Linked DNA regions of Homo sapiens. The protein of the gene in region 1 interacts with the protein of each later gene in a pairwise test. Each region holds a gene or a part of one and is shown in the gene's direction. Other genes may lie near its edges.

What was found. The genes of interacting proteins can lie anywhere in the genome.
Region 2: the proteins of MTCP1 (region 1) and AKT2 interact in a two-hybrid assay, tested with the Homo sapiens proteins (one study listed by BioGRID).

What each region holds. Positions count from the first base shown.
Region 1 is NC_000023.11:155,068,099-155,074,961, reverse strand, and holds the start of MTCP1 (protein p13 MTCP-1), read left to right. Parts: upstream 1-3,825; 5' UTR 3,826-4,268; intron 4,269-6,863. Other genes in the region: BRCC3 (lys-63-specific deubiquitinase BRCC36), read right to left, coding at 1,531-1,588, 2,619-2,635, 3,312-3,434. UniProt on the Homo sapiens protein: Enhances the phosphorylation and activation of AKT1 and AKT2.
Region 2 is NC_000019.10:40,229,802-40,233,368, reverse strand, and holds the end of AKT2 (RAC-beta serine/threonine-protein kinase), read left to right. Parts: 3' UTR 1-3,052; downstream 3,053-3,567. UniProt on the Homo sapiens protein: Serine/threonine kinase closely related to AKT1 and AKT3. All 3 enzymes, AKT1, AKT2 and AKT3, are collectively known as AKT kinase.

The sequences.
Region 1 (6,863 bases):
GGCTCACATGATATTTCTTTTTTTGTGGTTTATTTTTGTTTTGTTTTTCAACTGAATACTCCACTTAAAAAGATTATCACACTGGATTTTTTAAAAAGTATTTACCACTAATAAGAGACACAAGAGACACATTTTAAATATTAGTATACAGAAAGGCTAAAAATAAAAGGATAAAAAATACACTATGCAACACTAAAAAGGCAGCTTAACTAATAAAGTTTAATATCTAATTTAGACAGTACAAACTGACATAAAACTCAAGACGAGGGCATGAAATCTTGAATAATAAAATTACATTATTAAGATTGGAATGTATCTTAGTAACTGATGCCCAGGGTGAATTGTTTCTTTCTCTCTTTCTTGCTTTAGTCAGAGATTTCAGTGCCTAAGAGGAATGAGTAATATTTAATGCATAGACAGAGGAGGAAGAGGAGTCCACAAAGGATTGTGGGAAGGGGGAAACAGGAATAAAGGCAATACAACAAAACCAACAAAAACTCATGAGAGTTTAGAGATTCAAGGAGAAAGATGAAGATAAGCACCAGGAAATAATCCACCGAAGGTAGAATTAGAAACCAGACCTCAGTGGGTTTGACTGGGGAAGGTGAAGGAGTAGTAATTGTAGCCCATTCTTTTAAGAAGTCTGGCTATTAAAGGAAGGATATAAGAGTACTGACTACAGGAAGATACGGGATTAAGAAGTAGCTTTCCTTTCTGAAAATGAGAGTAATTTAAGCATATGTTTATCCTAAAAGAACCAGGTGACAGGGAGAAGACCCAGAAAAGAGACAGAACATTTGATAAACAAGGTCTCTGAAGAAGCTGCAGCTTTGGATAGGAAGAGGACTTATTTCTTTGATATGGGAAGAGATGCAAAGTGATTAAGGTGGAGAAGTTTGTAACTAGTAGTAATAAGTAGATGAAGGTGTGGCCTGATAACTTGGTGGGAGGAGGGGAAGTAATTCATTTTTTTTGTATTTTACAAAAGCATCGGTCTGTGACAGACTGGGGGAAACGTTAACTGGTCCGATACCACGATTAGGTGAGAAGCATTACACTAGACCATCAAGGCTAGAGCATGCCACAAAAGATGGTGTAGGAGTGCAGATAGGAAAAAAGTCAAGGCAGACTAAGAACTATGATGCTATGGTCAGTTTGCCTGTTTAAGAAGAGAGGGCTGCATGAGTAGATGTTGGAATTCGAGATAAAGAGGTAATAGTGATGTGAAAGTATCAAGGATGCCAAAGTATCAAGGAAAGTGGGAGAAGGGCCAGAAAACAGGCAGTGACAGCAAGGAGAGCAGCAAGAGGGTGGTACTGACAGTGATTATTAATCTTGATCAAGTAGAGACAATTTGCTACAAAGAACAGAAAATTAGGTCCCATTCCTAGTGAGTAGATTCTTCATCTGATTTTACTAGAAAGAATATCTCATCCAGCCAGAAACCGCATACTCTGGCTGAGATCACTGGATTACAGAAATCTTTCCCCAACTGCAAGTTTCCATCATGCAAAATTTTAGCACACATACCTTTTCAGCAACTGTGCGCATTTCAGTTCCAGTATATGCAAATTTGGAGTCACTCCTACTGGGAATAAATTAGAAAAAAAAAAAGGAAGTGGGGTTTGGAATATAAAAAGGAATTAAAGCAAAATAACAGGATTAACTGTTTTTGCAATGAAATCTTAGCAGAGACCAAAGAAGAGGAGGGAAACTGAATTGAGGCTAGAGCTGCACTCTATCTGTTAGAAGCAATCTGGGACACATGCACAAGTGGCTGAGTGTATAAAGTTATAATGGACAAAGCTAAATTCCTGGAATCCTGGGAACTAAGGAGGTGGGCTTGAGAAGTATACTATGGTATGATTTGAAGTTTAAATTAAAATGTTACCGAAAGGTTTCACCACGTCAAGTATTGAAGCTACTGGGGATCTCTGAGATCACTGAGGTCCATCAGGAGGAAAGGCAATGTCACTGTCAATTTACGTGAAGGAATGGATCAATGGGGAAATGCCTCTAAACGTATATGCTCTCTGTCACTAAGAAAATTACTGATATCTCACTGGCATTTAAGGGGAGACAGAACATGAAATACACTGAGCAAGGCCAGGTGTGGTGGCTCACGCCTGAAATTCCAGCACTTGGGGAGGTCGAGGTGGGCAGACTGCTTGAGCCAGGAGTTCGAGACCAGCCTGGCCAACATGGTGAAACCCCGTCTGTACAAAAAAAAAAGACAGCCGGGTGTGGTGGCGGGCACCTGTAATCTCAGCTATTCGGGAGTCTGAAGTATGAGAATCGCTTGAACCTGGGAGGCGGAGGTTGCAGTGAGCAGAGATCGCGCCACTGCACTCCAGCCTGGGCGACAGAGTGAGGCTCTGTCTCACCCCTAAAACGCAACAATTATGATAATGCTTATTAAGATGTTTATCCCATATCTCAACTGAATAGGAGGTAAGGCAGAAACCAAAGTTCAAGGTTGTATCATTAAGGGAGCCCCGGAGTGATAATGGTAATTAATTTAAGACACGATCCGGACACAATACTGCCAAAGTCGCCATAATTTTAGGTTAACAATGACTTAGAGATTATAAGATATGAGTAAACAAATACAGTCTTACCTTGTATCATCGTTCAACTAGAGTGGGAAAAAGCAAAAAACATTATTGATCACATTACGTTTGTTTGACATATATGGATGCAGATTATATGACAATTAGGTCATGTGTTCACGCACATGGTATGAAAGACTGGAGAATTACTTTAGACTGTAAACAGCTAAACTGTATTTCCTCATCCTCTTCGGCCCCTCCTCAACACAATGCAGCGGAAACTTTTGCTTCCTTCAAGCCCCGCACCTTCTGTTAGGCTCTTCGATACCCTTCAAATGCTTTGGTTGATATCTCTGCTCCCTAGACAGAAGACTCGAGGCGAGGCAAGGGGCTCTAACTGTGGTCAGCTGCTGCGTCGTAATACCCGGACATCCTCATTATACTCCAGTGTCTTTCTGACCTGCCTTGCAGTTTTGGTCAACCGGGCGAAAAGCGCAGATCTAAAGAGAAGCCCCAGGCTACAGGAGAAAGGGCAAGGCTCCCGGGGCCTGTACAGACCGCCGGGGGCTCGCAGGAGACTAAACAAGTGTCAGGCGGCCAGAAGAAACGGGGCTCCCCGCGACAGAGCTATGTAAAGGGTGTCCAAGGACCTAAATCGAGGATGCCTGTGGCCTCCGCAGCCCTGGGAGCTGCCGGCACCCACCCCGGGGACACACTGGGACTGCTCAGCAGGGTTCCATCCAGGCTAACAGACCTACTCACCTCCCCTATGCACAGCCCCATTACTTCCTCCTTCTCTGTGCTCAGAGCGTGGTTGAGACAAACGAGGAAAGCGTCAGACTCGAGATGAACCGCCTGCACCGCCTGCACCACCTGCACCGCCATCTTGGCCCGACCCTTCTCACGTCCGCCTCGGGCCCACTTGGTCCTGACCAACCGGGTGCTGCGGCGCAGCCTCCCCAGCGCCCAGCGCTGTGCGCTCCGCCCAGGCCTGGCCTTCGGCGCGCGGGTTCCTAGGGGGCGGGGCTTAGGGAGCGGGCGGGGCTGTGGGGGCGGGGCTGTGGGGGCGAGGAGGGGGCAGCGGGCGCGCGGCTGGCGCGCGGGGGCGGGCCTTGGGGCACGGGGGCGGGGCCCGCCCAGCAGCACCTGGGAAACGCCCGCGCGGTTTGGGGCAGGCGTGGCCGTCGGGGCGGAGGGCGGTGGCCGGCCGCGGTCCGGGCGTCAGGCCGGGCGGCGGGGGCGGCAGGGAGGCGGCGCTCTGGGGCCGCAGGCGGACGTACTCTGTGAGCGGCGCCCGGGCGCCTGGGCAGGCGCCTCCCGAGTACCGGCGCCCATTTTGCCCGCCCGCTAAGGAGACCCGTGCGCGGCCTACACGCTTGGGGGACAGCCCTTTAAGACGACATCTCCGCGAACGCCGGCCTCTTGAGCCAGGGGGACGCTCTTTTGAAAGTCAGTCCCAAAACAGTTAAGGTTTTATTTTATTTTGTTTTATTTCCAAGTCACAGCCCCCGAATCTCGTACAACTCTCCCTGGACCACTTCCGGTTGCCGGCCCGCGCCTCATAACTTCGGTTCGAGTGACCTCGGCCCGGGATGCCCCTCGGCTCACCCCGGGCTCACGTCGCGATCCTGGCTTGAGTGGCCCAGGGTGGGAGACCTGGAAGTTTTAGCCTAGCTGTTCTCAAGGCGGATTAATTAGCCCAAGAAACATTATATTCATGTGAGTAACCTTTTGCAGAAACAGTGTTATACTGTATCTGAAAAAGTATCACTCTTAAGCTTGGCTGCTGCTACTTTCTACAAAGGCTTTTAGGTAGCTATTTGTTGGATACAGGGAAGGGGAAATGGAGAACTTCAGTTTTTATTCAAGTTCGGATGTATCACATTAGGTATCCAGAATGCAAGTTTCCTCGGGTCTCCTTGTCTCGATGATATCAGACAGTAAAAATATATGTAAAAGTAATTTTTATTTCGAGGTATGTCAAACGTGCCAAGGATAAAAGTACAGATCTTCCAACTCACAAGTCTAGGAATCACACGTGGATTTTGAAAGCGATTCTAAATCAAAGCACAATATATGCCGTGCCGCCTCCACAGCCCGTCCGTGTTCGTGTCTTTGATTTGGTTTTCTACTTTGTGTAGTTTTGAAGCCAGGCAGGTATGGCAGTACTGGAAAGGGAACATTCCCAAGGTGCTACTTGAAGTGTTGATGCTTTGCTCTTTTCTCCCAAGTCAGTTCCAACCCAAGTCTCCCCACACATAGGGTCCCCATCCAGTGCAACGATCTGTAATGTGCACGCCAGCAGCCTCCGTTTTTACCTAACGATCTGTAAGGATCACATGGCACATCTTTCTATAATTAATTTGATCATGATGAAGGTTGGAAAATTTTCGTGTGCAGTTACATTGGACCTGTCTAAATTTTCTCTTGTTTCAATTTTATATCATATGTTATTTTCAGTTACTGTTTGTGGCTAGTATGCCCCGTCCTCATGGAGCAGGAACGGCTGTTCTTATTATTATGACATTAACATTTGGTGATGGGATATAGTGCCTTTAGGCACTTTCAAGAAGAAAAATACCTTTTGTTTGTTATCGGCGGTAGTCAATCTCATATTCCAGAATGAGGTTCACTAACTTTTCTAATGCTCATGGCTGCCTTTTACAGCTCCAGGCATTTAACTGGAGTAGAACAAAATTATTAACATTTATGGCAAGCTTATTATATGCTAGATACTAAGCATTTATATGCCTGGTACATGTAAACTGCCCCATTTGGAGTCAAGCTCAACAACTTCCCCACTGTGTGACCTTGAGCAAGTTACCTAACTTCTCTGTGCCTTTCTTTTCCTCACCTTTAAGTGGGGATGATAATAATTCTGCCCACCTCATAGCGCCCTATGAAGATTGTGAAAATTAAATGAGTCAATATATGTAAACATATAGGAAATGCTAAATAAAGACTATCATGATTAATATGTTCTTTAATTCTCATTTTACACCTCAGGAAACTGAGGTGGAGAGACGTTAACTTGTCCAAGGTCACAAAGCTAGTAAGTGACAGACTCAGGACTCATACACAGGCCTGGGCCTGTGTTCTTGGTAATTTCACTCATTGTAATTGGACGAGTTTATTAATTGACTTCTAATAAAATAAGTGTATTCAACTGATCAATGTTTAAAAACTGTTCATCAACCTGGCAATTAAAGCAAACTATACTTTTTTAAAAAAGACACAAAAGAATTTATTCTGTAAAGGAAAAATGATAGTTTTACTTAGATTACTACCTAAGGAAGCCCTTCTATCTTATATGTCATCCATTTAAAACCTAATTTACAAAATGCCTTACTAAGAAATTGTCTGTCTTGGCCAGTGTGCTCTCTGGCCCCGAAATCAAGGTGACCCTCATGGGGACAATCTCTTCTAGTGGATGATAAAGTTATGCAGTTATCTAAACATTTTTGGAATTCATTTGTATTTGTAGCTGGCAGTATTCCTTGAGTTGAGTTGCACAAGTTTATATTCCATGTATTGTATTGCACCTTGTACCTAAGTCTATGTTGAGGTTTTAAAAGATTCGTCTTAGTTCGAGAAGTCCTGAATTTTGTAAACAAGTATCATGTGCAAATAAAATGTTCTCTAGTCAAATAAATTTGGGAAATGTTAACATAAAGTTTCTTTACTGCATAACTTGCCAGAACAGTTACTACACTAATGTGCTTTATGACTCTCCAAGATTCCCAAACTTATTTGACCAAGGAAAATGTTGGGAGCAAGTTTTCTAAGAATCACATTTTTCCACTCATAAAACCTGTGATTGTATAGGCTTTGATCTGAATCCCTCTCCCTCAGCCTTTGCATTTCTCTGCTGAGGACTTTGTTCATGCTCATATGGTGACTTCTCTGTCCCTTGATCACTGCAGTTGTCTTTCTCTGGGCCTGCATGCCCTCTGAATGCTAGCACACACAATTCCAGGATACTGTGCTGAGAGGTGGTTCCCAAGCTCATCCCGCTGATGCCCAGCATGTTGACCTTTGGGTCACAGCAGCACATCACACTGCCTTTCTTCTGAGAATATTTTGTAGTGACTCATAGGCCTCTTTGTAGTGACTCAGTAACTCAGACCATCATCTCCAAACTCTTTGCCCTCTATTCCACTGGCATTATTTCCTTTTAATGTCAATATAACCAATGCAATTTTGTTTTCCATTCAAAACAAATTTAAATGTCAACATGTTGGTTGTTGCTAGGACCTATCTATGAAATTGAGATGGTCCTGAAACCCTTAACACATGGTTTCCACTTTTTTAAAA
Region 2 (3,567 bases), on another chromosome or scaffold:
TATGGGGGCAGAAAAGCAATAATGTCCAGGGGCAGGCAGGGGCCCTTGGGAGCTGCAGGGCTGGGGGTTAGGGCTGCTCCCTGGTGAATGGAGTCAGATCCTAGGATCTGTACCATGGGGAACCAGGAGTGGCCGGGCTGGGTGCCGCCTCCTGGTCCGGCCTCCTCCCCACCAAACTGTCCTCACCCTATGGATGAGGCAGGAGGAACATTTGGGGCCAAACCTGCCTGCCTCCCAGCCCCGTGCCTTACTAGGGCTTCCTTCCAGCTGGCCTTACCTCCCGCTGGACCCTGGGCCTGGCCTGGCCCCACTGGGGGCTATGGGCTGGGCTCACCCTCTCCTCTGCGGGGGTGGAGGGCCACCAGCCTTGGCTGTTACAATCTTACACCGGACAGTATTGGGCCCCATGGACTTGGTCAGGGAGGGGTGGGGGTGGGCATCTCTGGTACCTATTGGGGTGGGGGGCCTCTGAAAAGGGAGGCTCCTAGGCCCCCCTCACCCCTCCCTCTCCCCAGGGCCCCACGTTCTGCAGCCTTAAGGTTGAACATGAGTGCACGTCCATGTCAGTGCTGTGGGACTCCTGTGCGTGCCTCGGACTGCGTGTGTCGGCGGGACGCAGGCACACGTGGGTGTGTGTGCATGTGTGTTTGTGTGAGGGCAGCGTGTCCTCCAGTGTGCATGGTGTGTGGGCTTGGGCCCCATCCCTGGCCCGAGCATTTCATCCTGTGGGGGAGGGGTGCTGACCTAGTGGGAGGAGCCCCACTGTGATCCATGAGCTGCCCTGCCCACGCCTCCCCTCCCTGTAGCAACACCTCTGGGTGTTTGGAGTTTAGCTTTTGTGGGTTTGCTCTCCCTATCCCATCTCCTGTACTACACAGTTCATGGCAGGGTGGGGAGGGGTGGGGTTGGTTCGGGTGGGTGAGGGTCTTTTTCCTCTGTGTGCGATGTTGTTATCTGACAGTTCTCCGTCCCTACTGGCCTTTCTCCTCGTCTTCATATTTGTACGGTACAAGCAATAAAGACACTCATTTCAGACCAGGGCCCAGCCTGCACTCACGCCAGCCCAACCACTCTGGGCTTTGCCTTGGTGATGGAGTCAGACCCCTGGGCCCCAGCTCCTCCTGTACTAGCCGTTCCCTTCAGCAAGGAGGGCACTGAGCTCAGGGTGAGGGCAGCTGGGGTGTGTGCAGGAGCTCAGGCTGGAGAGGGTGGGTGGAGCTGGTGCTGTGGGGCTGAGGGGTATGGGAAGGCTCCCCGCATGTGGGGGTGGGGTGGACAGAGACCACTCCAGGCCCTCAGTGCTGCTTAGGCTAAGAGAGGTGGGGTGGAGGGACAGGGCTGGAAGATCTGGGTAGCCCAGAATGAGGAGGGTGCCTGTGCTGTCACTGAATGAGAGGGAGTGGTTCATTCCACCCGGCTGCCGAGCCTCAGAGGGGGGCATTCCTATCCTGCCCCACCTCCCTGTTTATGCTGCCACCTGGAAGCCTTGAGGCCCCCAAATTCCAGTACAGACCCAGTGGTGTGTTCATGGTGGCGTGGTTGCTGTCACCTGGGAGCTCCTGAGCGTTTGGTTAGAACCCTGTTCAGCTTGGGGTCAGCCCTCCCCTAGTCACTGCCCTTTAGCCTGGATGTGTCTGGGCCCCTGCACTTCCCGTGCTTGAGTCACGTGGCTGCATGGCCGGGCGCTGGCCGGATGGAACACCTCCCCCAGCAAGGGACCAGGGACCAGAGCCCTGGCCTGCCCTGCTGAGCCCTGCTGTGCAGAGGGCCTGGCACAGATGAATTTGAGATTTTGCCGCAAGGTGTTAGCACTTCACACCCATTGAGTCTTTGAGATTTTAAGTGAATGTAAGCAGAAAAAGTCAGATCCAATTTACAGAAATCAGAGTTAGCTACAGCTAGGACTCGTTTGGTTGGGGTTTTTTAGTTTGTCTTTCTAAAGTCATGTGGACCTTAATTTAATTACAAAAGTCTACCCTGGTGGTCATAAAATAGGCAGGCCTATGAAGAAAGGCCTTTTACTCTTCCATCTCGTCCCAGCCCCGAGTTGACCCACGTTGCTGCTCCTCACACCATGGTGATGCAGGTCTCGTAGTGTGGGCACAGGCCTGGCTACCTCATCTTTTTAGTGCCTCTCTCCTCTTCCACAGGATGGGGTCCCACAGCTGCAGCAGCTGGCCCCGTAGTTGAGCATGTGTGGTTATCCTGTAGAGCTTTTCCCAAGAAGGGTGTTTGAACTTAGAGTCTTAATAAAATCTTACCAAATAAATTTTGAGTAGAATAATCGTCTTTTGCAATGTACATTTTAAAAATTTCACACATTCTTTTTTGTATATAAAGAACAGTGACTGGGCACAGTGGCTCATGCCTGTAATCCCAGCAATTTGGGAGGCCGAGGCGGGCGGGTCTCTTGAGGCCAGGGGTTCGAGACCAGCCTGGGCATCATAGGGAGACCTTCATCTCTACAAAAAATACAAAAATTAGCTGGGCATGGTGGTGCATGCCTGCAATCCCAGCTAACTTGGAAGGCTGAGGTGAGGTGGGAAGATCACTTGAGCCCAGGAGTTTGAGGCTGCAGTGAGCTATGATTGCGGCACTGCACTGCAGCCTGGGACAATGAGACTGTGTCTCTAAAAATAAAAAAAAAAAAAACATGATACATGCTATTAAAAAAGACAGCAAAGCAGGAGTATAAGAAAGGAAATTCACCCGAGGTCGCAGGGCCTTGAGTACTCATTTTGGTGCTGATTACCTCTCTGCAAATGGACACGGCATCATAAATTGGTAGTTTCCTGCTCTTTTTGTGTAATCTTTTCCAGTTAATGTGAAGCCTCTGGGGGCTGCCCTCGTGCACTGATGGTTGTGTGGAGTCGGGGGCGGCAGTGCGATTCCCTTTTAGCTGCTGCATGGGGGGAACTCAGGCTTTCCAGCTGCTTCCTGGGGTTCCATGGGGTAGACCCCTCAACCGCTTCAGCTGCCCCGTTAACAGGAATTGACTTGGTTTCGTTTGGTGCTACCAGCAGTCCTGTAATAAACTAGCTATCCATCTGTACTGTGCTGGTGCTTTTGTTTGTCTACATCCCAGGATTTTAATGTCCAGTACCTTTCCAAAAAAGTGTAGCCATTCAGATACTTTAAATTTTGAAATAATTGCAGACTTGCAGAAAACTTTCAAAAATAGTGCTGTACTAAGATTATTCCAGGCCTGGGGCAGGAAATGTACAAGATGAGCCTGGGGCATCTTGCAGTGCCTGAAAGCACGCACTGATATGCTTAAGTCACAGGGACACAGGAGCCAACAGAAAGCTTCCAGTGGCCAAAGCTGAAAAGAATTTGAACAACAAAATAAATAGCATAATATTGGGTTTTCACCTAAAATGTGAAATAAGTCTATTGCTAAGTGGCAAAATGGGGAGAATATGCAAATCTACACAAAATCATAAGTAATTTCTGTAGACAGCCTTCAAGGAGGGCTATGGAACCCCCACTTCTTAGGCGTGGGCTGCAGTGACTCCTCCAAAGAGTGCAGTGTGGAGAGGGGGAAAAGTAACTTTTCAGTGAAGGTCC